7 linked regions of the Homo sapiens genome follow. The gene in region 6 interacts genetically with the main gene of each other region. Each region holds a gene or a part of one and is shown on either strand. Other genes may lie near its edges.

Region 1 (3,500 bases), on a different chromosome or scaffold from region 6:
CATGCTCAGCCAGGAAAAGTTTTAAAGAATGTAAGGTCTGACTCATTCCTTTTAGGTGGAAATGTAGACCAGTTGGGGTCTACAAATGTAAACTCCTCTTGGTTATTTGGACTTAGGAATAACCTGGCTGCCAAACAGCCTATAGGTGAGGGAACTTCTATGATGCTGACATGGCATTTGAAAAAGAGAAGATCCCCATTTCTATGGGAACCAAATGAAATCTTACACAAGTAGTGGCATTTGGGCTAGATCTTAATGTACAGATAGGATTTTGACAGTTTGGGTGACAGAGAAAAGAGCAAAGACATGATACATAGTTCAGGAAATACAGAGCTTTAAAGGTATGGCAAGCATACATCTAGAAAATAAGAGGTAGAAAATAAGAACAAAAAGGTATGCTGAGGCTATGAAGAACCCTGAGTTGGACTTCTCTAACTAGTCAGTACAGAACACTTAAGAAATTTTGAGCAAGGAGTACCATAATCAGTGTCCGGCTGTTGTACAAACTCAATAAATACTTCTTGAAAAAAATTAATAACTGAACATAAACTATGATTCAGAAATGATCATCTGAGTGTATAAACAGGATAGAGTAGATAAATGGAAAGTATTTCAAGAGATATACTAACAAAGGTAGAAGGGATTTAGAGAAACAATCACTTTGGACAAGAATGTATAGATGAAGAGAGACCAGTTAAGGGCTACTTGTGCTAGTTTAGGTAAAATAATACTGTTGTAAGGCTAATGACAGCAGGACTGTATGGAAAATAAAAGAAAAGCTTAATACTACAAATAAGGAATCAATAAGACTTAACTGGGAGAAAAGTGGCAATAAATACTTACTGACTACTTACTGTATATTAGTCACTTCAAAATTTCCAGTTAGGTGATCGGTGGAGTGACTACCAAAAATATATTATACTATATAATATTATTACTACACCTGGCCAGGCGCGGTGGCTCACGCCTGTAATCCCAGCACTTTGGGAGGCCGAGGCAGGCGGATCATATGGTCAGGAGATTGAGACCACCCTGGCTAACACAGTGAAACCCGTCTCTACTAAAAATACAAAAAATTAGCCAGGTGTGGTGGCAGGCGCCTGTAGTCCCAGCTACTCAGGAGGCTGAGGCAGGAGAATGGCGTGAACCCAGGAGGCAGAGCTTGCAGTGAGCCGAGATCGCACCACTGCACTCCAGCCTGGGAGACAGAGCGAGACTCCGTCTCAAAAATAACAATAATATTACTACTACAATAAATTATCTCATGAGATTATCTTCCACTCATCTCTCTATATTCCCACACTCTATACATCTCCCAACTACAATTTTATACTACTAATAAAATAATCTTAACCAAATTGTTTAATAAACCATGAAGTAAGCCTAACTAGTGAAAAGCACATAAGTAGTGGAATAGCCAGCCTCAAAACAAAGGACACTTCTAAAATCAAGACAAAGTAGAAAATCAGAGACTAAAATACCTCTAAGGTATTGAAAAATGAAATTGAGAACTCACATTGAGTGGCATAGGCCCAAAGACAATTTACTAATGCGCTATTGCTACACACAGAAAAAGAAGAAACTAAAACATCCTCAAATGCCAAATTGCTTTTAATTCTATTCTATTCAGTTCAAAAAAACACAAGTCCTGAGAGTATTTCTGTTTCAAAATCCAGTATAATATTGAAATAAAGTTTCCTACAAACACGCGTTTGCTATTTTATACCCTTGTCTGTTCTTTAGGATAATTTCAAGTAGGATTAAAATCAAAGGTATGTATTTTTAGGAATAATTAGTGGCTTTAACTTTTTATTCTTTAAGATATCCAACTTTTAAATTTTCGAAAAGACGTGTAAATTAAAGCAACCATACATAAATATAAAACTTGCTAATTAATACTTTGTGATTTTTATCAAATCAGGGGGTATAAATCTAATTAATCTACTTCAAAATAAGCATATGACAACTCTTTGCACCTCTGTGTACACATCTTTTAAGTTGTTAAAATTGCAACTTTAACTATAAAAGCTACAACCCAAAATATGTACACATACATACATGTATATGTATGCATGTATGTGTACATATTTTTTTAAACTGCTATCTATTGATGTTAAAATTTTAATATCCTTGAGGCAAAAAACCCAAACAGGTTTTATTAAAATGATGTTTCTTGGGAATAACCTTCCTATAACCAGCCATTTCATACAGTCTCTTACAGCTCTAAAATCCTTTTATTCTCTAATGAGAAAAATAAAAACAGAAACAGTTTCATTATGGTTATGCTAATAAATATTTTAAGTGTTATTTTAAAATATTTACCAACTGCGTTAGCACTCTGACATCAAAAGAATGACTAGTTGCTTGAGTATTTCCTCTAGAAGATTTTTTCTGAAAAAACACAAAAGTTAAAAAGCCAAACTGTGAAGCCTGTAAAACATAAAAGACAACTTATAAACTATTGTACATATACTAAGTAACTTAGAAAAAAACAAGTCTTTTAATTATTTTAATTTAGCTTTTTATATAGATATTACTTTATGTATTCTGTATCAATGTACACTCTTTAAAACAATTAATTCCATACTTTCATTCCTCTAAAGCAACAACTGGCAAACCACTGCCTGTGGGCAAATACCCACATTGCCACTCATCTTTGTAAATAAAGTTTTACCGGTATGCAACCAGGATCATTCACTTATGTATCTCCTGTAGCTGCTTTCATGCTACACAGTAGAGATAAAAATACAGCCTGTGAAATCTAAATATGTAGTATTTTTCTCTTCACATAAAGTTTGCTGATCCCTGCTTTAAAAAGTGAGAGATCACAAAAGTTCCGCTTCCTTCAGGTCAAAGCTATTTTAGAAGCCTCTATAAACCTCTTTTATAAAATGGCCATAGCTTTTGAACTGTCATCAGGGCAGAACAACATGTGGCCTTTGGTTGCAGGTCAGCAGTTTACAATTTGGAAATCAGATGAAATTCAGATGACACTCCTGTAAAGTTTCAGGATTCCAATTACATCATTTTCTTTTTTTTCCTGGACTTATTTTTTAACTTTTAAGTTCATGAGTACATGTGCAGATTTGTTACACAGATAAACTTCAGTCATGGGGGTTTGATATACGGATTATTTCATCACCCAGGTATTAAACCTAGTACCCATTATTTATTTTTCCTGATCCTCTCCTTCTCCCTCCTTTTAGTGTGTGTTTTTCCCCTCTATGTGTCCATGTGTTTTCATCATTTGGCTCCCACTTATAAGTCAGAACATACGGTATTTGGTTTTCTGTTCCTCTGTTAGTTTTCTTCTTTTCCTTTTCTTTTATTTTGAAATGGAGTCTTACTCTGTAGCCAAAGGCTGGAGTGCAGTGGCACGATCTCGGCTCAATGCAACCTCCACCTCCCAGGTTCAAGCCATTCTTCTGCCTCAGCACCCCGAGTAGCTTGTGCTTACAGGCACCTGCCACCACACCCGGCTAATTTTTGTTATTTTTAGT
Region 2 (3,500 bases), on a different chromosome or scaffold from region 6:
TTGCAGGTACTAAACCCGGAAAGCAATCACACAGAGCCCTGGCGGGAGGAGCAGCAGCAGCTCCTGCTTTAATAGTGATCAACTCACCAACCTCTGCTCGCTGGCTCAGAACAGCACGCTGTAAGTGTCCCTGAATGAATCCAGCAGTGGTCTTGGCTGTAAGTGTCCCTGAATGAATCCAGCAGTGGTCTTGGCTGTAATCATCCAGATTTTACATAGTAGGGCCTTGCCACTGCTGGCCTCTCCTTTGTCCCTTGGGGAGAGACATGGTCACTTTCAGAGGCACTGGATTGATGGAGCCCTATGCCCCCTAACATACATTTCCCATCCCACCGCTCCTCCAGGGGTCCCAGGACCCCTGCACTGCACAGGAAAGGGGCTGAGCAGTACCCCATGAGCACGGGCCCAGTGTGAGGGGCCGCGCCGACAGCCTTCTAAAATAACCGCAGCACAGAAGGCCTGGAATGCATTTGGACTTATATTTGGAATTGTCGTTGGAAACAGTCCTGGCCAAATGTAATACCCATCTGTTCGGGATGGTTTGAGAGTAAGAAAATGAGGTGGCTCAGCTGGAGGGGGCTGGGCAGCCCTGAAACTCAGGGCTGGGAGGGTATGATGTCCCCTGGCCCCCACGCTATCCTGGAGCCCTCCTTCCCTCCAGCCTAGGCTGCTCCTGCCTTCTAGGACCATCCCCTCGTGTTAGCCTGCCCTGACTGGAGGTATTTCCCCTTGCCTGCAACCAGGCTTTCTTCCCGAACCTTCTGCCCGCTGGTCAGTCCTTCAGGAGTTCGGGACTGGGCTCCTTCCTGCTGAGTTTTTGCATCTCCAGGGAGAGCAGCCAGGTTTGGTGCCCAGCACTGAAAGCAAGCATCCGCTGAGGCCGTGAGCTGCCTGTCGCCTGGCTCCACCCTCCCACATTCCTCATGCCGTGCCCCTGTTAATGCATCCTGGGGTTGCATCCGTGCCCCTGCAGTTCTGTGATGATTGATCGTGAGCTGTGTGTTTTCCATTACATTGGTCTCCTTCCCCCACTTCCTCATGGGATAGTGGATTTTGAAGACTAAAAGGTAGACATTTCAGTTTGTTTCTGTACGTTTCATCTTGTTCCACAGTGTGCCTGTCTGGCCTTTTGACGTCCAGTGGATACTTGTTCTTGATATGTTTGCTGTTCTCAGCATTTTCTGAGTGGCTTTAACCTATCCGAGTGGCTTTCCCCCACCCAAGATTATTAACTCACTCTTTTCCCCTGGAGAGTAGTCAAGGGGGAAATGATAGCTTTGTTACTTGAAGACAATCTTAGGAAGCATTCGCTTAATTCTTGGGGAGAACCCAAAGAGTGCTCCCCCGTCTCAGTGCTCCCCTGTCTGAGTGCTCCCCTGAAGGGAAGTGCTCCTGTCCGCATTTGCCTTCCTTCATGCTTCCTTCTGGGAAATGTGGCCACATGACCCCAGTCCTCCCCTACCCTCAGGGCCACTGTTCCAGGGTCTCAGGGTGGCAGAGAAGTATTGGCAAAAATAACTCCTTGGAGTAATTGGTCTTCCTTAGAATTGGGGTTTAAAATCTGTCTGGTTTCCTAGGGCAGTCATAATAAATCACCACAAACTTGGCTTCTTAAAACAACAGAAATGTAGTCTCTTATGATTCTGGAGGCCAGAAGTCCTAAATCAAGATGTCTGCAGGGTTGGTTCCCTCTGGTGGCCCTAAGGGATAAAAGCCGTCCCCTGCTCCCAGCTCTTGGTGGCCTCCAGCAGTCCTTGGCGTTCCTTGGCTCATAGACGCCGCACTCCAGGCTCTGTCTCCGTCTTTCTGTGGTGCTGTCTGTCCTCTCCTCTTTTTATAAGGACACCTGCCATTGGATTTGGGACCACCGTAAATCCAGGAGGATCTCGTCTTAAGATCCTACACTTAATGACATCTGCAAAGACCCTATTTCCAAGAAAGGTCACATTCACAGGGGCTGGGCTTCAGACTTGGACATAATTCTTTGGTGTCCACTATCCATCCAACTACGGAATCCAGATGGTGGCCATGGCTTGTGGTGAATCTAGTCCCTGTTCAGATGTCTGTGACACAGCAGGATGCCAGGGACCCAGCATAGTTTCTCGCAGTGGGGTTCGAGGGGCTCCCAAAGCCCACTGCCAGTTCTCTGAGCAGATCCAAAGTACCCAGAGGTGACTGAGAGGCCAAAGGAGTCTCTTTTCATCCAGCCGAGGAAGGAGCGTGGCCTGGCTCTCAAAGGCTGTACATGTGACTCACAGGAAGTGAGGTAGTGAGTTCACTTTAACCCACCTCAAACAGATGAAAATCAGCCGTTTCACCTGCTAGGGGTGGGCTTGCCTGGTTGGAACAGTAGGTATGTCCCAGTTTTTCCTAGGGATTACTTCTTGATCTCTGAAGAATTGTATGGAATCAGCAGATTCCTCATGAAGTGACTTTGTATTTAAAATCAAGACAAGCTTAGGTGCTTTTGTTTTATTTATGAGCCAAATATCTGCAAGAAATGTTATTACCACAAAGAAAATTCTCAGTATGGAAACCTTCAGCCAGTGTTTGGGTTTGTGTGAGGTAATTTATGTGATGGAATTCCAGTTCCACCAAACAATTTGGGTAGTTCTGTGGGCATCTTTGGTAAAAACTGGGCTTCGAATACTTATTTAACGTGGGATTTTATGACAGTTTCAGAAGCATCTGTTACTTTTCATTGACGTAGTTTCTTGGGCTGAGCCATATTATTGACAGGACTCATAGGAAATGTGTGAGCCAGGAAGGGTACCCCTCAGACCAATTGCCACCTGGCACCCCTCAGTGCACACAGCCAAACCTTGCTTGAAGGTTCACGCGTGTCTGATTTTGGCACTTATTGACCAGCCATTTAGGTCATAGTAACCATGAGCGACCCTATGGCGACAGATGCCGTGTTTCAGTTTTGATGTGTCTTCTAATTCTGAAGAAGGAAAATAGCACAGGTGATGTTGGGGACACCAGTAATAAGCTGATGTGGTGTTGTCTTGGGGAATATTCTCAGGCGAGTGTGGATCTGGGGAAATCTACTCAGTGGCCACCGAGCCCCTTTGCTGACTGTCTCTTTGGACAGTTTGGCTGGCCAGGCTGTGGTAGATGGAACACTCCTGTTCCGGTGGGTGTTTTGATTCTAGGAACTCTGTGGGTAGATCTCAAACTGCTCAAGACTTCCAAGAGGTGTCCTCTGTGGACATTGGCCGTGGATGAATTCTAGAGGGCTGTGTCAGAGGCACCCGATGTGCCAAGGTGGGCTACGGAGGTGGATAGCTTCTGGGCCTGTCCCTAAGAAATGCTGCTCCTCATATCATGACCTCAATTAGAGGGGAGGGCAGTGGAGAAGGCGCATTTGCAACAGACCCTGCTATAAGGGAGCACAGTTTTTGCAGGGTAGTATGTGGCTGAAGGTCTGGGAGCGTTTGGAAGTATGGATGGCGGCTGGGCGTGGTGGCTCACGCCCGTAATCCCAGCACTTTGGGAGG
Region 3 (3,500 bases), on a different chromosome or scaffold from region 6:
CTTTTGGTCAAAGCCATTCAACAAGTCTCTAGGAAGTTCCACACTTTCCCACATTTTCCTATCTTCGTCTGAGCCCTCCAAACTGTTCCAACCTCTGCCTGTTATGCAGTTCCAAAGTTGCTTCCATATTTTCAGGTATCTTTTCAGCAGCTCCCCACTCTACTGGTACCAATTTACTGTATTAGTTTTTTTTTTTTTTTTTCGTGCTGCTGATGAAGACATTCCCAAGACTGGGCAATTTACAAAGAAAGAGGTTTAATTGAACTTACAGTTCTACGTGGCTGGGGAAGTCTTACAATAATGATGGAAGGCAAGGAGGAGCAAGTCATGTCTTACATGGATGGCAGCAAGCAAAGAGAGCTTGTGCAGGAAAACTCCCCCTTATAATAACCATCAGATCTTATGAGACTTACTCATTATCATGAGAACTGCAAGGGAAAGACCTGCCCCACATGATTCAATTACCTCCCATTGGATCCCTCCCACAACTTACGGGAATTCAAGATGAGATTTGTGTGGGGACACAGCCAAATCATATCAGTAATATTGTCCTTATACAATGAATTGGAAAGTGCTCCTTCCTCTGCTGTCTTTAAAAAGGGTTTCTGAATAATTGGTATTAATTCTTCTTGAAATGGTTGGTATCATTCAGTGGTAAAGGCATCTGGGCCTCAACTTTGTTTTTCTGGTGAAAACATATACATGTATTTAGAATTAGCCAGCTGGATTCAGTTTAGATGATCCCAATTTTGTTGGCAACATCCAAGACATGGTAATCAGGAGCCAGTCGAACATATGCCTTCTTCTCTCCATCAGGCCTAATCAGGGTGTTGAACCTTGGCCACATAAACATCATAGAGCTTCTTCACAACCTGTTTGATCTGGTGCTTGTTGGTTTTAACATCTACAATGAACACAAGTGTGTTGTTGTCGTCTTCTATCTTCTTCATGGCATACTCAGTGGTCAGTGGAAGCTTGATGATAGCATAGTGGTCAAGCTTGTTTCTCCTGGGGGTGCTCTCCAGAGTCTCAGTATCTTGGGCCACCGGAAGGTGGGTGATGTATGGATATTCTTTTTTTCATGGCAGTGGACACCTTTCTACACTGCCTTCTTGGCCTTCAAAACCTTTGCATCGCTTCAGCTTTAGGAGGGGCAGGAGCTTCCTTCTTTGCTTTCAGTGCCATCTTGTGAAAACGACTTTTCTTTAGGAGTAGTTTTGATAACTAAGTCAAAATCTTTACTTGCTATATGTCTATTCACATTGTCTCTTTCATCTTGATTCAGTTTCAGTAGTTTGTGTCTTTCTAGGAATTTGCCCCTTTCATCCAAGGTACCTAATTTTTTGTTGTACAGGTTTCATAGTATTCTTTTATAATTTTTTTATTTCTATATAATCTGTAGTAATGTGCTCTCTCTCATTTCTGATTCTAATACAGTCATGCCTCAGTTAATGATGGGAACTCATTCTGACAAGTGCATCATTGTGCAAACATCATAGAGTGTACCTCCACAAACCTAGATGATATAGCCTACTGCATCCCTAGGCTATGTGATATAGCCTATTGCTCTTAGATTACAAACCTGTACTAGTAGACAATTGTAACACAATGATAAGTATTTGAGTTCCTAAACATGTGAACATAGAAAAGGCCCAATAAAAATATGGTATAAAAGGTTAAAAAAGATGATGTAGTTGTCTAGGGCACTTACCATGAATGGAGCTTGCAGGACTGGATCTTGTCTGGGTGAGTCAGTGAGTGGTGAGTGAATGTGAAGGCCTGGGACATTCCTGTACACTACTATGGACTTTATAAACACTGTACATTTAGGCTACACCAAATCTGTAAATTTTTTTTTCCTTCCTTCAATATTAACTTCGTGTAACTATTTTACTTTATAAACTTTTTAATTTTTAAAACTTTTTCACTCGTTTTAACACTTAGCTTAAAAAACAAAAACTGTACAGCTGTACAAAAAATGTTCTTTCTTTATATTCGTATTCTATAAACATTTTTGTATTTTTAACTTAAACTTTTTTTTACTTAAAAATTTTTTTGTTAAAAACTAAGATAGAAACACAGACATTGGCCGGGCGCAGTGGCTCACACCTGTAATCCCAGCACTTTGGGAGGCCAAGGCAGGCGGATCACGAGGTCAGGAGATCGAGACCATCCTGGCTAACACAGTGAAACCCTGTCTCTACTAAAAATACAAAAAATTAGCTGGGCATGGTGGCAGGCACCTGTAGTCCCAGCTACTCGGGAGGCTGAGGCTGAGGCAGGATAATCGCTTGAACCTGAGAGGCAGAGGTTGTAGTGAGCTGAGATTGCGCCACTGCACTCCAGCCTGGGTGACGGAGTGTGACTCCTTCTCAAAAAAAAAAAAAAAAAGAAACACAGACATTAACCTAGGTCTACACAAGGACAGGTTCATCAACATCACTGTCTTTCACCTCCACATCTTGTCGCGTTGGAGGATCTTCAGGGGCAGACACACATGGAGCTGTCAACTCCTATGTCCTCTGATAACAATGCCTTCTTCTGGAAAACTGCATGAGGCTGTTTTATAGTTACCTTTTTTATTTGTAAGTAGGAGTACACTCTAAAATAACATTACAATGTATAGTATCAAAAATACATAAATCAGTAAGTCATTTATTATCATTATCAAATATTATATATAGAACTTCATTATATGTGCTATACTTTTAACTGGCAGTGAAGTAGGTTTGTTTACATCAGCATTACCACAAACACCTGAGTAACGCATTGACTTATGACATTACTAAGCGATAGGAATTTTCCTCCTCCATTATAATATTATGGGACCACCGTCACATATGTGGTTCATTGTTGACCGAAACGTCATCATGCAGTGCGTGACTATAATTTGAGTCTTATTTTTTCCCTGTGCTAATTTTTTAACACAATTAGTTGTGCCAATATATCGATCTATTTAAAGAACTAGATTTTGAGTTCATTAATTTACTCTGTTGTTTTTCTGTTCTCCGTCTCATTAATTTCTGCTCTAATCTGTATTATTTTCTTCCTTCTGCTTGCTTTATCTATAGTTTGCTCTTCTTTTTCGAGTGTCTTAGAGTGGATTATTAGGTTATAGATTGAGATATTTCTTCTTCCTTAATAGACATTTAGGAAGGATATTTCTTCTTCCTTAATAGACAATTTCTCTGTAAACTTCAGCTACGTTAGCTGTATCCCATAGGTTTTGGTATGTTGTGTCTTCATTTTCATTCGTCTTATTTTCTGATTTCTCTTTTGATTTCTTTTTAGACCAGTTGGTTATTTAGGAGTGTGCTATTTAATTTTTATATAGCTGTGATGTTCCCCAGTTTCTTCCTGCTATTGATTTCTAATTTTATTCCATTGTGGTAGGAGAGTGTATTTTGTATTATCTCTATCCTTTTAAGTGTATTGAGGTTTATCTTATGGCCAAGCATATGGTTTATTTTGGAGAATGTTCTATGTGCACTTTAAAAGAA
Region 4 (4,191 bases), on a different chromosome or scaffold from region 6:
CACCAGGAGAAGCACCTCCCAAGGAGGATCTATCTGAGGCCTAGAGGCCTGGAGCTTGGGGTGAGGAAGAGGGAGGGATGGACAAGTCTGAAAACCTCACAACTCCTTACCAAGGCTCCAGGTTGGGGGGATCGTAGGATTAGAGGGGCTAAGGATAGTCAGCGAGCTGGACTGGGGTAAGAAAGAAAACCAGATGTCCTAGGGCCTAGCCCTTGTAGTCAGAACCACCAGGGAACAGCAAAGAACAGAGTGATGGGAAAGTGACATGAGAAGGCCTGGAGGCTGATTCTGATATAGACTCAATAAAGTTTTTGGATGGAAGCAATTGCTTTTTCTTGTCAAGGGGATGGGGGCCTGGGAGAACTGATTTCTGTCTGATGGAGCAGCTAGGACTCCAAAGTTTGGACCCTGGCTCGACCTGTGCAGCAACAGGAGCCCACATCTGTAAGGATCAGAAAGCAAGAACCCAATGTAAGAAGCAAAGGAAAACAAGAGGCCCCTCCAGGTTGAGATTCTTTATTCTGGAGGTAGGAAGGGGGTCAGCATGCTCAGGTGGGAAGGGTCCAGCCCAGCTCCTCCAGCCCCCCAGTGCATGCCCAGCCCCAATAAGTTACCCAGTTACTCAGCTGCCCTCCCTCCTGGGTCCATCTGTCCTTCTGTTCCACCCTAGACAGGGCCAACCTGACTCAACACAAGGGCTGCTTGTCCCCAGCCTGTGGGCAGTGCCACACGGCAGGCTAGGGGAGGGGTGAAGCAGCAGGACCATGCCCTGGGCCTGGAGGGGCAGAGGGGCCACTTCTGGCTCCAAGGGTCAGGACTTGGAAAACCACATCCTGGGCAGGCCTGGGGCCCAGTCCCACAAGGTCTGTGCCTGAAAAGAGGTGGTAGTTGGGGTGGGGCCGCCATCACACCTCAATTGCTGGGTCTGAGCCCCGGCCCTGCCGCTGCAGCTGCTCCTCCTGCTTCATCTTGGGCTTCTCTGTCCGAGTATGCCACACCAGTACCTGTGCCAGGAGGGATGCAGTGAGAGCCAGGCCCAGCTGCAGCCAGGCCTCTGGGTCCCCGAGCCTGGAATGGATTCTCTAACCCTATCGACATATACAGTATAGGCTTCAAAGTGTAAAGGGCAGGGTGGAGGAAGACTTAGTGCCTCTAAAACCGGGCCTTGGCCGGGCGCGTGGCTCACGCCTGTAACCCCAGCACTTTGGGAGGCCGAGGAAGGCGGATCACGAGGTCAGGAGATTGAGACCATCCTGGCTAACACCGTGAAACCCCGTCACTACTAAAAACACAAAAAAATTAGCCGGGCGTGGTAGCGGGTGCCTGTAGTCCCAGCTACTTGGGAGGCTGAGGCAGGAGAATGGTGTGAACCCGGGAGGCGGAGCTTGCGCTAAGCCAAGATTGCGCTACTGCACTCCAGCCTGGGTGACACAGCGAGACTCTGTCTGAAAAAAAAAAAAAAACAACAAACAGGGCCTTATTCCTTCATCCTCTCTGTGCCACATGGGTTCCCAGAACTCGGGGCAGAGTGGCAGGAGACCACTTTCCCCCGCTAGTTCCCAGCTTCCCCTTCAGTAGAGTCAGCAAGGCTGATCAGAGATCTGGAGAGTCCCTCCTGGTTAAACCACCCATTCCCAGGGTCTCACTGTACCTCCCCCATCACCTGTCCATCCAAGAGCCAGGTTTCTATGCCCATCTCCATTCCCTTACCCGAGTGCAGTTGGCAGCCCGTGGCTCCAGGTCCTTGGGATCCACAAGGTGGCTCAGAAGACTGCTCTCCAGGTGGCCCCGGGGAGCGGTGGAATCAAATTGGGCATTGGGCTTATCTAACAGCAAGGGCAGGGCCACGGCAAATCCAGCCATATCCACAGGGAAGGGCCTGCTGGGCTCCCATGCTGTGTGGAAGCCCACTACCCGGCCGTCCTGTACCTGAGGGCCCTCGAATCGCAGGCCGCCCACCAGCCCCACAGGCCACACTGAGACACCACGGGTCCAGCGCATCTAACGGAGGTCGGGAGAGAAGAAACAGAGGGGTGGTCCGGGGAAGGGAGCAGCAGAAAGAGCCACCTGGCTCACTCTGCCCCACTGCTTCCAGCCCCTCACCCAGCAGCCAACGGCAACACTGCTAACCAAGGTAACGAATGAAGCTGGCCGCACCTGGTCTCTTGCCCATCCCCATCCTGGTGCTCACCTCCTCAAACAGCTCCCGGCTGTAGGTGTTGTCATCGTCAGCAAAGTAGACGACTCCTTGGGTCCCTGGTGGTGGTGGGTCCTTCTCCCCACCCACAGCACCCCCTCTGCCCCGGAGCCAGTCCAGGGCCTTGTTCCGCTGCTCGACACCACGGGGATGAACCCAGCCAGGCTCGCCCTCCCGAAGCCGCTGGGCTTTGGGCGTGAGGACCACCAGGTGTGTGAAGAGGAGGCCAGAGGCAGCCAGCAGCCCTGAGACCAGCGGGGTGGGACCCTCAGCATCCTCCACCAGCAGCCAATGCAGCCGGGGCACCAGGCTCAGTGTCTGGGACAGTCGTACCAGCTCTGCCTTCTGTACCAGCCTGCAGGGGAGAGATGCAGCACAAGGAAAAGGGGCAGGCACCATTTGCCTGCTCCAGCCAGGGCAGACAGCTTCTCCTGGGCCACTGCCTGCGTCTCCTGTGGCCCTTCCCAACCAATGCCTAAACTCCCTCTTTCTTGCCTGTCAACTTCATGCTAACACTCACCTGCCCTGTTCTTCTGGTCCATGTCCATCACCCACCTCAACTCCAGAGCTCAGGCTGTGGGAGACTATAAATTAAGGGCACAGGGCCGGGCATGGTGGCTCACACCTATAATAACACTTTGGGAGGCTGAGGCAGGTGAATTACCTGAGGTCTGGAGTTCCAGACCAGCCTGGCCAATATGGTGAAACCCCATCTCTACTAAAAAAATACAAAAATTTGCTGGGTGTAGTGGCACATGCCTGTAATCTCAGCTACTTGGGAGGCTGAGGCAGGAGAATCGCTTGAACCTGGAAGGAGGAGGTTGGAGTGAGCTGAGATCGCACCATTTCACTCCAGCCTCAGTGATAACAGCAAAACTCCATCTCAAAAAAAAAAAAAAAAGGCCGGGCATGTTGGCTCACGCCTATAATCCCAGCACTTTAGGAGGCCGAGGTGGGCGGATCACCTGAGGTTAGGAGTTCGAGACCAGCCTGCCCAACATGGCGAAGCCCCGTCTCTATTAAAAATACAAAAAATTACCCAGGCATGGTGGCAGTCACCTGTAATCCTAGCTACTCGGGAGGCTGAGGCAGAAGAATCGCTTGAACCCGGGAGGCGAAGGTTGCAGTGAGCCGAGATTGTGCCACTGCACTCCAGCCTGAGCGACAAGAGCGAAACTCTGTCTCAAAAAAAAAAAAAAAAAAAAAAAAAAACAAATTAAGGGCACAGGCTTTGGGATCAGGTAGATCTGGGTTTGAAATCCAGTTTTGTAACTTATTATGTGAGACAATTTGGGAAAATGGCTCAATCTCCCTAAGCCTCAGTTTCCTCAACTGTAAAATGGGAATAACAGTACTTTATAACAATGTTGTTTTAAAGATTAAATAAGAGCTGGGGATGGTGGCTCACACCTGTAATCCCAGCACTTTGGGAAGCTGAGGCAGGTGGATCATGAGGTCAGGAGATCGAGACCATCCTGGCTAACACGGTGAAACCCCATCTCTACTAAAAATATAAAAAATTAGCTGGGTGTGGTGGCGGGCACCTGTAGTCCCAGCTACTTGGGAGGCTGAGGCAGGAGAATGGCGTGAACCCGGGAGGCAGAGCTTGCAGTGAGCCAAGATCACGCCATTGCACCCAGCCTAGATGACAGAGCGAGACTCCATCTCAAAAAAAAAAAAAATACAAAAGTAAAATACAAAAAATTACTGGCCAGGCATGGTGGCTCACACCTGTAATCCCAGCACTTTGAGAGGCCGAAGCAGGTGGAACACGAAGTCAGGAGTTCCAGACCAGCCTGGCCAACATGGTGAAACCCCATCTCTACTAAAGATACAAAAAATTAGCCGGGTGTGGTGGCGCATGCTTGTAACCCCAGCTACTCGGGGGGCTGAGGCAGGAGAATTGCTTCAATCCGGGAGGTGGAGGTTGCAGTGAGCCGAGATCGTGCCATTGCACTCCAGCCTGGGCGACAGAGTGAGACTCCATCTCGGGA
Region 5 (4,269 bases), on a different chromosome or scaffold from region 6:
CTTTATAAAAAGAAGTCTAAAACTTTTTTAAAATTAGTTTTATATTTTTAAAATGTAATCTCTTAGGCTTATAATCTAAAGTTTTAAAATTAGGCATGCTTTAATGTAACCTCATTCTAGAGCAGTAGTTATTTTTAAATTATATTCTAAAGTATTTCTTTATTGTAACAAAATTATGTTGTTTTCACAGGCCTTGCAGTTGAAATTCAGCCATAAAGAAAATGAAGTGATTTAAAATTGCAAATTTTTGTTACTTCAGTAGTTGTTAATATATAATTTTATTAAAAAGGTTTATTGAAAATCGTGAGGCACTTTATTGTATGGATGCCTTTAAACTTAGTAGACAAAGGTTTCTTTTTTTCTTAATCGAGAAACTTTCAATATTTTACAGTAGTTTGAATTACTGCTAACTCTAACATACTGCTTGTTTTATTATCTTTAAAAATTGAATGTGCATATCCTTGATATGAAGAAAATCTCATCAGGCAATTGACCCCAAATATGTCAGGGTATCTAAATTTTTGTCACTTGTAGTAATTTACATTTTTTTTCCTGTCCTTAGATATATTATTGTGTATTGAAGGAAGTATTCATGATTAAATTATTCACAGTTACTTGATGAAAGTATTCGTCAGAGTTTTCATGGCTGGTGTTATTTTAAATTTTAAGCGTATGTTGGATTGTGAAGATAGGAGAATAGGAACAAGACTTAAAAAGCTTGGAATTGGGGTCTCATGATGCTTGAGCTTTTGTACCCATTTTACTGTTTACTAAATCATTTATTATATTTAATAATTGTCAGAATATTAAGATAACTTGATTTTTAGATATCTAACTTTATGTTTTGTTTGTTTGTATAGGAAATGTTTTTCTAAAACATGGTTCAGAACTGCGGATTATTCCTAGAGATCGTGTTGGAAGTTGTTAATATCTGCTACTTGGAACATACGATTGCCTTTCAGAATAAATATTGGTATTTTTTGTTGTTGTAAAATTGAAATCAGGCATTTAACATACTATGAAAACACCAGGAGTCAATGATTAATGAAAGGTGACTCATCTGTCCCTTTTTGTTGTCCATACTCTTCCTATGAAGAGGGAATGCGTATGAATTAAGGCTACTACTGTCACAGAAGATCATAGTCTTTGATGCTACCTCACAACACAAACAGGTAGTTCGTTGGGGGCAAATGAATTAGCCAACTGTTAACTGGAAGCTTTTGATAATTTTTTTTTTTAGAACAATTTGGAACATTAAAATTTACTGAATCGTATATATTCATCTGAGATAAAAATATAAAAAGAATTATGGACCCTGGATGGCAATTTGCTTGATAGCATCTGATTTGCAGACTCATAATTTGATTTTTAATTAAATATATAGGTTGTGATGAAGTGAATAGACATATCAGTGAACAGTTAACTATATTAAATTTTTATCATTTACTTTTTTTAAGATTCAGACCTCAGTTATATAAATTTCAGTTTAATATCAACCAAAAAATTAAAATTTTAATCTAACCCTTATGTGTATAAATTGGTGTCCCATACCAGCTTTTAATGGTGGACCTATAGAATCCAGTACTTTTAATGGTGGGAATTTACAGTAGAAGCATCCTTTGCTGAGTTATACATTCCTTTATCAATCTCTTTTGATACAACATTTAAAACAAGTAGCTTCAAGAAACCACTGGTGTTTTGAGGATAGTATTTCTAAATAGCATTCAGGAACAGAGTATTATTGCACAGATCTGAAGATCAAAAAAAAGCTCAAGGAAATACAGATCGGAAGTGCTGATGAGTTATATTTATTGAAAACCCAACTTTTAAGGAAGTGCTAAGATCAGTCACCCATGTGAATAAGAAGCCAGGAAAGGAAAGATGGGGAAGCCCAGATCACCAGGCTTCTATTAAGGAGGAAAGCAACAGAGGAAACAGTGAAGGGGAACAGAAGGGGGTAGCAAAGTGTTACAGAAAAGCGGACTGGATAGACAAAACTGCAGAAGGTGTATGTTGGGGAGAACTGAAAGGGAAAACAAAATACTTGACATAGTCTTAAGTAGAAGAAGGCAGTTAGAGAAAACAAAGTATCTACTGGCCTTGTCAACATACAGACTTCAAAATACCCCTTATGAGAATCCAAAGAATGATGTGTGTAAGGGAAGATTTTATTTGCCCTTCCGGAAGAAATCAGTATCTATGCAAATCTTGAAAGACGAAATCAAAGCCCATTAATGATTCAGAATCAGTGCTTGACCTCCTGTATTCTGAATGGTGAACTCTGGAAGCAGGGATTGTGTCTGGCTCTTTTTAGAGCTGGAAATGTAGTGGCTTTCATTAAATACTTGCTGTAAAGTCTTTCTAAGACCAATTATTATCTTAGCATGTTTCAGTATCTTCTCTATCATAGGCCCTAAGTTCATTGGGGGAAAAAAAATAAGAAGATTCAACAGAATCAGCATTTGAAGTGTACCATTGGTAGTTGTTTATGAAATTACCAGATATTCATAAATGTGACAAATGAACAGCAGGATTATGAATTATCAAAGGAAAAAGTATTTGCTGAGGTGAAAAAATCTGATGTTTGAGGAAGTTTTTATTTTTATTTATTTGTTTTGTTTTTTTTTTTTTGAGGCAGACTCTCTGTCGCCAGGCTTCTCCTGCCTCAGCCTCACGAGTAGCTGGGACTACAGGCATGCACCACCACGCCCAGCTAATTTTTGTATTTTTAGCAGAGACAGGGAGGAAGTTTTTATTTTTATAAACAAAATCTGATGTTCAGAGGCCCCGTTTCTTACAATAAATGTTGAGTCTTAGTTAAGCAGGAATTTATGAACACCCATTTCCTGACTTTTTGCTTTAATTTAGATTTTTCTCCATCCTGTTTCTAGCACAAAAATTTGCCTGCTGTGTTACAAAAATAAATTTATGTTGTCCTGTGCCATAAAGTGATATATTTAATATTTTTATTCTTTGGTTTTGAACATTGTAAGTTCCTAAAAACATTTTATTAAACAAGTAGACATTTTGTTATTAAAAAAATGTGATCTGTAATTTCTTTGTGCAGAATGATTTGAAGTATTGTATTCAGTTTACATGCGTTATTGGTTTATAATTAATATCTAATGAAAATACATGTTGTTATATTGTAAACCATATTGTCTGTTCTTATTATTAGAGCTCTTAATCAGCACACCTTTTGAGTCAGTATATAATACATGTAGTAAAGAAAAAAAGGGCAAAGATGATTAATGACCATAAGTCAGAGAAATTAGTTTATAGTCATCTGCCACAGACATAGTAGTGATGTTTCGTCCAACAACAGACCGCATATATGACCGTGGTCCCATATTACTATATTTTTACTGTGCTTTATCTATGTTTGGATACACAAGTACTTACCATCATTTTACAGTTGTTTACAGTATTAGGTACAGTAACATGCTCTACAGGTTTGTAGCCTAGGAGCAATAGGCCATACCAAATAGCCTAAGTTTGTAGTAGGTGACATCAACTAGGTTTGTACAAGTACATTCTGATGTTCACATAGTGACAAAATTGCCTAAGGAAGCATTTCTCAGAATTTGTTCCTGTGATTCAGTGATACATAACAGTACTTGCAAATGCCTGTCCATTTTACAGACGGAAAAAAAAAAAAAAAAAGTTGAGAAGAAAATGGGGTTATTGTAACTGGCTAGGTTGGTAGGTTCCAAACCTGGGTGATAACAGAGTCGCCTAGGAAATTAAAAATACAGATTTTTGGAAACCACTCCTTGAATTCTGATTTATTACATCTGTAATAATATATAAAGATCCTCTGTAAACAGGAGTTCTGGTGATTTCTGCCATGCAGGTGGTTTGAGAATTAATGAGAAGGCCACCTTTTCACTTTGTAGAAGAACAGAATGAGGTCTAAGGGGTCAAAGTAAGTAGAATATGTTCTGGAATCTTGGACAGTGCACTTTCCAATGCTTGGTAAGTAGCCTGAGGTGAAGGTGCTAGCTAACAGTCTCACTCACTGCACAACCTTTGAAGTTTTTCTCCGGGAGGTGGGGGGCAGCCCCCGCCCGGCCAGCCGCCCCGTCTGGGAGGTGGGGGGCAGCCCCCGCCCGGCCGCTGCCCCGTCTGGGAGGTGGGGGGCGCCTCTGCCCGGCCGCCCAGTCTGGGAAGTGAGGAGCCCCTCTGCCCGGCCGCCACCCCGTCTGGGAGGTGTACCCAACAGCTCATTGAGAACGGGCCATGATGACGATGGCGGTATTGTCGAATAGA
Region 6 (3,500 bases):
TTTCTTTTATACTTTGGTTTAGAAAGGGGAGGGGGGGGTCTAGTTAAAACAATTTTACAGAAGTAAAGTAGGCAAAAAAGTTAAAAGGATAAATGGTTACAGGAAAGTAAACAGTTCCAGGTGCAGGGGCTTTAAGACTATTACAAGGTGATAGACGCGGGGCTTTGGGCGTTATCAATCTGACGAATTCCTGAGAACTGCGGATATTGCTGGCCACAGTATCTTATCAGTTAATTGCATTCTTGGATGTGCTGGGAGTCAGCTTGCACAAGTTAAGTCCTTGCGGAAGGGCTGCCAGTGAAACAGCCAAGATGGAGTCTGTCTGGCTCTCTTAGCTAAGGGAGAGTCAATTCAGGTGAAAACAAGGCTAAGTGATTAAAGGAAAGGGAGAGTCTAAAAACAGCGTTAGTAAAAACAAGGTTGGGCATTACATGATCACTGGGTCTCCACTGTCAGAGGGTCTTTGAGCTCAGTTCTAGTGGCAGCCTCCTGATCCTCACTTCCCTGGCTGAGGCAAGGTTGTTGCAGCAGCCCCAGGAGTCTTTGTTAGAATCCCACCCCAGAGCTCCTTCCTCCAGTCCTCTCAGCAGTTTTGTTAGTTCCAGTATTAAGTGTAATTTCTACAAAAAATGCCTGGAATATTTCTGTTTCCAGAACCGGATGCTCCTGTTAGCTAGTGTGTGAAAGATAACTCTGACTTGCCTAAGCTTTGTTGATGTTTTGAATAATAATTGGCGATAGTCTCTTGACTTCTGCAAGAGAAATGAAACAGAAATTGGTCTCAAGTTTTAGTTGCTCTTGTGAAGGTCAGGGACAGTTTGTACCAGGGTGTGGGTGTGGAAAAGAAGGGGAGATATAGTCATTAAATTAGAATATGCCTGTGAGGGGAGTTAAGGGGAATTCCTTTAAAATTCTAGAAAACACACACAGGTGCCAATTTTGTCTGGCTAGGGAAAAGTAAACTGCTGAAAACACTTGGGGGGAGAAATGAAGCTAATGGTATCTTGATCAGTCAGGAGGATTGGGTATTTGAAAGCAGGGAAGAAAAATAATTGGACTTGGATATTCCTTTGCCCCTTCATCTGAGTAAGGTGAAAGCAAGTGACTCTTCAGAAGAGGCGAATGGGACACTGAGTCCAGCAGCTCAGGCAGGGTGGAGTTGGTAACTGATGGGCACAAGTCTTTTACTGGGCTCTAAAGAACTCATTCATCTGGGTGTGGTGGCTTACACCTGTAATCTCAGCATTTCGGAAGGCTGAGGTAGGAGAATCACTTGAGCCCAGGAGTTTGAGACCAGCCTGAGAAACACAGTGGGACCCTTTCCCTACAAAAAACTGAAGACCTTATGAGCTTCCCTAGTCTAAGAGTAATTTTTATGTTAATTTCTTGGCTTGGGCTTAAACCCCAACAAAGTGGTGATTATTCGGACCCCAGCCCTACCTCTCCCTAGTATGCTCTCCTTTCTCAAGTACTCACCACCTCTAGCCACAGTGAACTGCCTCCAGCATACACACACGCTGCTATTTTGTTGCATCTGAGTGGGCTGGCTCCACACGGGATCTGTAGTTTCCTTTTGATATTTTCTTTCAATGTGCCAGATGCTACCACTGAGTAATCTAGATTTTGCTGCCAAACTCTACCCCCGTTAGCACAGAGGGAAGACAGTATGCCAGTGCTCTTGCTGAGTGTGCGTGACTGGCAGAAAGCAGTCATGGGTGTGATGGTTGGAAGAAACAAACTGAGCAGATAATGTTTTTTAAAATGATTATCTCATTTTGTTAACTCTTGGTGGCATTGTTATATTGTTGATACTTATGAATTACAAAAGTTAGATGACTGTAAAAAAATAGAGAATTAAGCATTTCATTTCTAGTAGTTCTGTTTGGTTCTTTTTCAAATATGTCAGTGAATTTGTATAATATCTCATTTCTTAGTCTTGTGTTTAATGATTTTATTTTTGTGTTTTTATAATTCCTTCTACTGCATATATTTTATACTTTAATTTATAATAACAACTGTTGACAAAATTGTGACTATTCATTAATACAGTAGAAAAGAACTTGGCCTCCTTTTCATGGAAGCTGATGATGAGATTAAAGCACTGTTGGCCTGCGAGTGGAGTATAGATTTGGGCTGTCCAGAACACATAAAATTTGTATTTATCTTTCTGATAAAAAAAAGTAAAATAGTCTGAGTGCCAATTTTTCCACTTTCATTGAGCACATTTAATTTTAGTAAATTTAACTTAGCAAATTTAATTTCTCCAGTTATTTACAAATAATCATATTTAAGTGAAGTTGGGATGAATGGGCAAGCCCATTTCAAATTTCTAACCTAATTTTTCCTCTTGTTTTCATATAAAATTTTTCTATTTATGTGTTTTTATTTTAAGATAGCTCAAATCTTTTGTGGACTGATACTGTATGTATATAAATAAATGGATTCAGTGCTTCTTTCACTAAATACAGCTAGATAAATATATAAATATACTTGAACACAAATACAAAGCAACCATTGGCAATTTAGAGTTGGGTTGTGTTTCCACTTATTTTTTGTTAATAAATTTGATTTTAACCTGAAATATTGTCTTGTAGGAACAGATAAAGAACACAAGAGGTGATTTAACATAAGTTTTAGCTGTGAAACTTAGAGTAGATAGGTTAGCAACTTAAATTTTGAAAGAAAATAGGATGAGTTTCAATGGAAGAAATTAAGAACACACCCATTGCATGAGCTCCTTACCCCTCCTACCCAGCCCCCTCCCAGGAGTGAGATCTTTCCCCAGATCCTCTGTAACTTCCAGATGTTCCACTGAGAACATCAGAAGCACTAATGGCAATTGCTGCCATGTAGCAGTGCATTGAGAGTCAGGGCCTCTGGCACCTCCATGGGGCTCAGGGTCTGAAGACGTGATCCAAACCTGACAACTTGGTGGCAGGTTCTGTGAGCATTCATGATGTTGTGAAAAGGGCTTGGGGTCTAGGAGGATGGCAGCAGAGGTTTCTGCCCTCAGGTGTGAGTGAGGGGCTTTTGAAGTAGGAGAGCAACTAGAAAAAAGGAGTGGCACAGGGACAGAAACTTCTTTTCTCCATTGTTTGTTCAAGGCCACGTGGGTGGAGTCATTGAGGTGGAGGTTTAACTCTGTGACATAAGTTTCCCTGATTTAGTCAGGCTGTCTGTCGTTGGGCTTTTCCCACTTCCTTCTACTACGTACTTCTTCCCTATTCCTCCTACTGAGGCCATTAAACCCTTAGTTGTAATTTTCCCTGAACATGCTTTACATTCTGATGAATTCTGAAAAAGAATGTGGGGTTTCCTTGCAGATGAGTTCATCTGTTGTTTCATTTCCTTTACAATGTAGGTTTTCTTCTCTGTCTTTTTGGATTAGTCTGTTTTTGGTTCTGTCTACCAAGGATCCCTTTCTTTAGACTTCTATAGATCCCTTTCTATAGAACTTAATCTACTTAAGTCAGGGAGACCACCCAGAAGGAAAGAGCCCA
Region 7 (3,500 bases), about 95 Mb from region 6:
ATGGTAGGACCTCTTACCCTTTCTGTCACTGAGTGATTTTCTGAGCAGTTTTGTTCCATCTCATTTAAAATGCAAGGTTTCCAATGTGGACTGTCCAGCATTCAAGATGTTCTGCTTCTGTTGATGGCAGTGGACACAAGAACCTCTTAGCTCACAGAGACCTCCCCCTTAACCCTACCTTGGGGTCATTTCAGGTGCTTCTCCCAAATTACCTCTCCTGGTTCCTACACAACACTCTAAAGTTCAGGGAACTCTAAAATGTTGGCCATGTGACCTATTTCTTGCAAACCATGTCACCTTTGCTTATGCATGTCTTTGTAACCAGCCATCTCAAATACATTGCAGACCATGCATTTTTCCCTGAGGTGAAAGGGAATTCTCATCACGTAGGAAAGAATTGCCCTGGAGTGCTGACTCCATTCTGGGACTGTTGCTGATTCATGGGTACAGTGTGCCACTTTTGAAAAAAATTCACTTAAAACAGACCAGAACGTGCCTCACACTGTAAGCCTCATTTTGCTTGCAGCATTTGCCTGTGTACACTGGAGAGGCCCGAGGCGCCCCTGCTCTGCGTTTTTGTTGCAGGTTCTTTAGCAAGGGTGTTGTCAGTGACTTCCCTGGGCAGCCAGGCTCTTCTCTGTAGATACCATGTTCCTCCTTCCCTCTTTGGGGAGGGCCTTTGCACAGGGACAATTCCTAAAATTGGAATCGTGTGTCTGCCAGGAGAAAGGCAGAATCACTTTCTTGCAAATTTCCGTCACTCCACTTCGCTAGTCATCCCCTCTGTGCTCCATTGAGGCCCAGGGTCTCTCCCTCCACATTTACCATCTAGCTTCAGGCTAACCGAGGACCTGGGCATGAAGAGGCTTTAGGGTATAGAATTATCAGACTTTATGGTGGTCTCTTATGATGAGGGCAGTGGTGGCAGAGTAAGAGTAACAGGTGCTCTGATGTGTGATGGGAGGGAGAAAAAGAGCAAATGGTTTTCCTTAAAGCCCCCACACAAGTATTCTCTCTTCATGAAATGCATGGAGTTTGTCCTCTGGCTTGCCGGGGACACTCGCCTGTGAGCCTACTCATTTCTGCCTTAGCTTTTGGGTGTGAGATTACAAGTCCTTCATCACTGACATGGTTAACACAGCTCACCCAGACGGGAATAGATAGTGTTAGGAGAGCTAATTTTGTAAACCCAAGCTTTTATAAAAGTGACATTGAAGTTATGTTAGATATGGAAATTGTCTGATACTCAGTGAGTGTGTGCCTTCATCAGAAACTCTTGACCTATCCAAAGCCCAGCCTTGTACACAGCAGCCTAGAGGCTGAAGGTATAGATGGTGCAGTTTAGCACTGCCAGGTGAGTAACTGTCATCTTGGAAGCGGAGTACCCTCTGGCACACGGAGCTCTGCTGAAGCAGCGCAGGGAGGTCAGACTCGGCCAGTAGACGTCTCTGCAGACACGCCTGTGGTCTGGGTGGTGGATTGCTGCTGTTGTCATGACGCTTATAACTGGAAACCGTTTCTTTCTTAGGGGAACCCAGAAGAACACACAATCCTAGAATTTGCTCAGTTAATTAAAAACCTTGTTGGTAAGTAGGATAAGTCATTTCCTGAGTAAAATCGACTGTGCCTGCCCTATCTGTTAATAACACCTTGACTAGAAAGTGGGTAATTAATACAAGCTAATTGAATTGGATCAAAGCAGAACTTTTTATCAGGAATACTTAAGTGTTTTCTAATTTTTAAGGAATAGAAAGATAAAGGAGGGCAGGATTGGTTTCTCCTCAGTTTTCGTTGCAGGTTTGCATGAAGTGGGAGGGAGGAGGAGATTTGCTCCCAGTGTTTGAGGCACGATTGTATTAGATCATCCTACATGGGTGACAACTATTGGATTTCCGAACTGGTCATGTCAAGCATAGAATTTCAGACAGCAAGAGACAGCAACCACCAGCTGCGTGCTTCAGGCAGGTTTGAAATTCTGTTTGCAATTCTGGTTATCCTGGCTGCCACCCACTGGGGGCAGTGTAGCATTGGGAGCACCCCATCAAGGTGGACTCTTAGGCCATGAGAAGGTCAGGTCTTCCAGACCAGCCCTGGATTGCAGACATAGAGTGGATGAGCCCTTGGCCTCATCTTCAGACTTCCTGGAGCTCTGAGGAGTCAGACTCTTGGAGGGTGTCTGTTGTCTGGGGTTGATCCTGAAATTTGAGTGAAGTCACAACCAGACTAGACTGGCAGGTAGGCCAAGGAGGAGTATGCCACAGTGTGTCCTGAGGTGACCATTCAGACCCCGCTTGGCTGGGTTAATTCCTCCAGTGTGCCCTTCCTGGCATCAGGCTGCCATTCATCGGCATTGGTCTAATCGACCCGGATGGCTGGAATCCTCCCGTTGCTCGTGGCAGTAGAAGCAGCGGTCTTCCTCAGACATAGCCTGCATCATCTGTGGCTCCCACAGCTGCTCCGATGCACTTCCCAGCTTTTCCATCCTGAATCTGTGTGTTCCTCCTGCGTGAGGAAGGGGCAGGCTCAGATCACAGCTCTGTGCCATCCACTCCTTCACACCCTCACTGCACAGAGTGAGGCCCGTGGGCCAACGCAGCAGCAGCATCATCAGATGTGTGTTAGAAATTCAGACTCTCATGCCCTAGCCCAGGCCCCCAGATCAGGATCTGCCTGTTGACAGGCTCTTCAGGTGATCCGTGCGTGCTGACGCTTGAGAAACACTATTTGAAACCTAAGGCTGGGGGGAGGGGCGTGCAGCTTCCCTGCTGTGCTTCTGTATATAGCTTTGTGACAGACCATCCTGAACCACCTGTGGTGGTGATTCGCTGCAGAGTCTGCAATGTGGCCTCCATGACACGGAGGCAGGGAAAGCCTCCACAGGCTTTCTTCTGCAGGTCTGGCCCACAGTCACTGGTGGGGCTGTGTACTGCTGGCCAGTGGGGCCTGGGCCCAGCAAGGATGTGGAACAGGCCAGCCTTTGCCGTCCTCCGAGAGGTCCCTCCAGCTGGGTGGCTGCACATCTTGGGTCTCAGGGCTGTCTAGGCTCCGAGCACCCAGGTATGGCCCACTTGGGGCATCCACCTCAGGGATGGCCCCACACCACGTTTGTGGTCTCACACCGGGGTCATGCTCGGTGGGCACGTCTGCACTTGTTACCTGGTGTGGGTGGTCTGCCTTGGAGCAACCCTCTTGTAGTGGGCGGTAACTCAGGCCTGTTGAGACAGAATAACCTGCCCCCCACCGAGCTCTTGCTGGGCGCCTGCACACAGTCAGCTTGGCCACAGCAGTTGCAGGAGCACTCCCTGGACTTCCACGCAGAACAGTCCCTCGGGAGCTCCGGGGCTTCTCAGAGAACTGCATTTCCACCGCCTGCACCCTATTCACACCACATATGGGGTTTGCCTTTGATGTGGATGGTAAGGCTGTGCTTACCCATGCTTTGTGATTCTCTCCTACCTTTTTTTTCTTTAAACATCTCAGGTAGCGGAAGTGAAATTCAG

What was found.
Region 1: changes in CFLAR (region 6) and ODR4 together harm fitness less than expected from each alone (positive genetic interaction), as found in Homo sapiens cells (one large-scale study listed by BioGRID).
Region 2: changes in CFLAR (region 6) and CHST15 together harm fitness less than expected from each alone (positive genetic interaction), as found in Homo sapiens cells (one large-scale study listed by BioGRID).
Region 3: changes in CFLAR (region 6) and TNFRSF10A together harm fitness less than expected from each alone (positive genetic interaction), as found in Homo sapiens cells (one large-scale study listed by BioGRID).
Region 4: changes in CFLAR (region 6) and B3GAT3 together harm fitness less than expected from each alone (positive genetic interaction), as found in Homo sapiens cells (one large-scale study listed by BioGRID).
Region 5: changes in CFLAR (region 6) and UFM1 together harm fitness less than expected from each alone (positive genetic interaction), as found in Homo sapiens cells (one large-scale study listed by BioGRID).
Region 7: changes in CFLAR (region 6) and UXS1 together harm fitness less than expected from each alone (positive genetic interaction), as found in Homo sapiens cells (one large-scale study listed by BioGRID).

What each region holds. Positions count from the first base shown.
Region 1 is NC_000001.11:186,392,838-186,396,337, reverse strand, and holds part of ODR4 (protein odr-4 homolog), read right to left. Parts: intron 2,392-3,500; coding exon 2,323-2,391; intron 1-2,322. UniProt on the Homo sapiens protein: May play a role in the trafficking of a subset of G-protein coupled receptors.
Region 2 is NC_000010.11:124,024,099-124,027,598, reverse strand, and holds part of CHST15 (carbohydrate sulfotransferase 15), read left to right. Parts: intron 1-3,500. UniProt on the Homo sapiens protein: Sulfotransferase that transfers sulfate from 3'-phosphoadenosine 5'-phosphosulfate (PAPS) to the C-6 hydroxyl group of the GalNAc 4-sulfate residue of chondroitin sulfate A and forms chondroitin sulfate E containing GlcA-GalNAc(4,6-SO(4)) repeating units.
Region 3 is NC_000008.11:23,204,603-23,208,102, reverse strand, and holds part of TNFRSF10A (tumor necrosis factor receptor superfamily member 10A), read left to right. Parts: intron 1-686; exon of another isoform or gene 687-1,195; intron 1,196-3,500. UniProt on the Homo sapiens protein: Receptor for the cytotoxic ligand TNFSF10/TRAIL. The adapter molecule FADD recruits caspase-8 to the activated receptor.
Region 4 is NC_000011.10:62,614,796-62,618,986, forward strand, and holds the end of B3GAT3 (galactosylgalactosylxylosylprotein 3-beta-glucuronosyltransferase 3), read right to left. Parts: intron 2,553-4,191; coding exon 2,192-2,552; intron 2,002-2,191; coding exon 1,711-2,001; intron 1,446-1,710; coding exon of another isoform or gene 1,391-1,445; exon of another isoform or gene 1,005-1,390; coding exon 906-1,004; 3' UTR 501-905; downstream 1-500. Other genes in the region: ROM1 (rod outer segment membrane protein 1), read left to right, coding at 1-44. UniProt on the Homo sapiens protein: Glycosaminoglycans biosynthesis. Involved in forming the linkage tetrasaccharide present in heparan sulfate and chondroitin sulfate.
Region 5 is NC_000013.11:38,359,851-38,364,119, forward strand, and holds the end of UFM1 (ubiquitin-fold modifier 1), read left to right. Parts: intron 1-190; coding exon of another isoform or gene 191-216; exon of another isoform or gene 217-860; coding exon 861-928; 3' UTR 929-3,769; downstream 3,770-4,269. UniProt on the Homo sapiens protein: Ubiquitin-like modifier which can be covalently attached via an isopeptide bond to lysine residues of substrate proteins as a monomer or a lysine-linked polymer.
Region 6 is NC_000002.12:201,126,164-201,129,663, forward strand, and holds part of CFLAR (CASP8 and FADD-like apoptosis regulator), read left to right. Parts: exon of another isoform or gene 1-3,357; intron 3,358-3,500. UniProt on the Homo sapiens protein: Apoptosis regulator protein which may function as a crucial link between cell survival and cell death pathways in mammalian cells. Acts as an inhibitor of TNFRSF6 mediated apoptosis.
Region 7 is NC_000002.12:106,096,802-106,100,301, reverse strand, and holds part of UXS1 (UDP-glucuronic acid decarboxylase 1), read left to right. Parts: intron 1-1,528; coding exon 1,529-1,586; intron 1,587-3,480; coding exon 3,481-3,500. UniProt on the Homo sapiens protein: Catalyzes the NAD-dependent decarboxylation of UDP-glucuronic acid to UDP-xylose. Necessary for the biosynthesis of the core tetrasaccharide in glycosaminoglycan biosynthesis.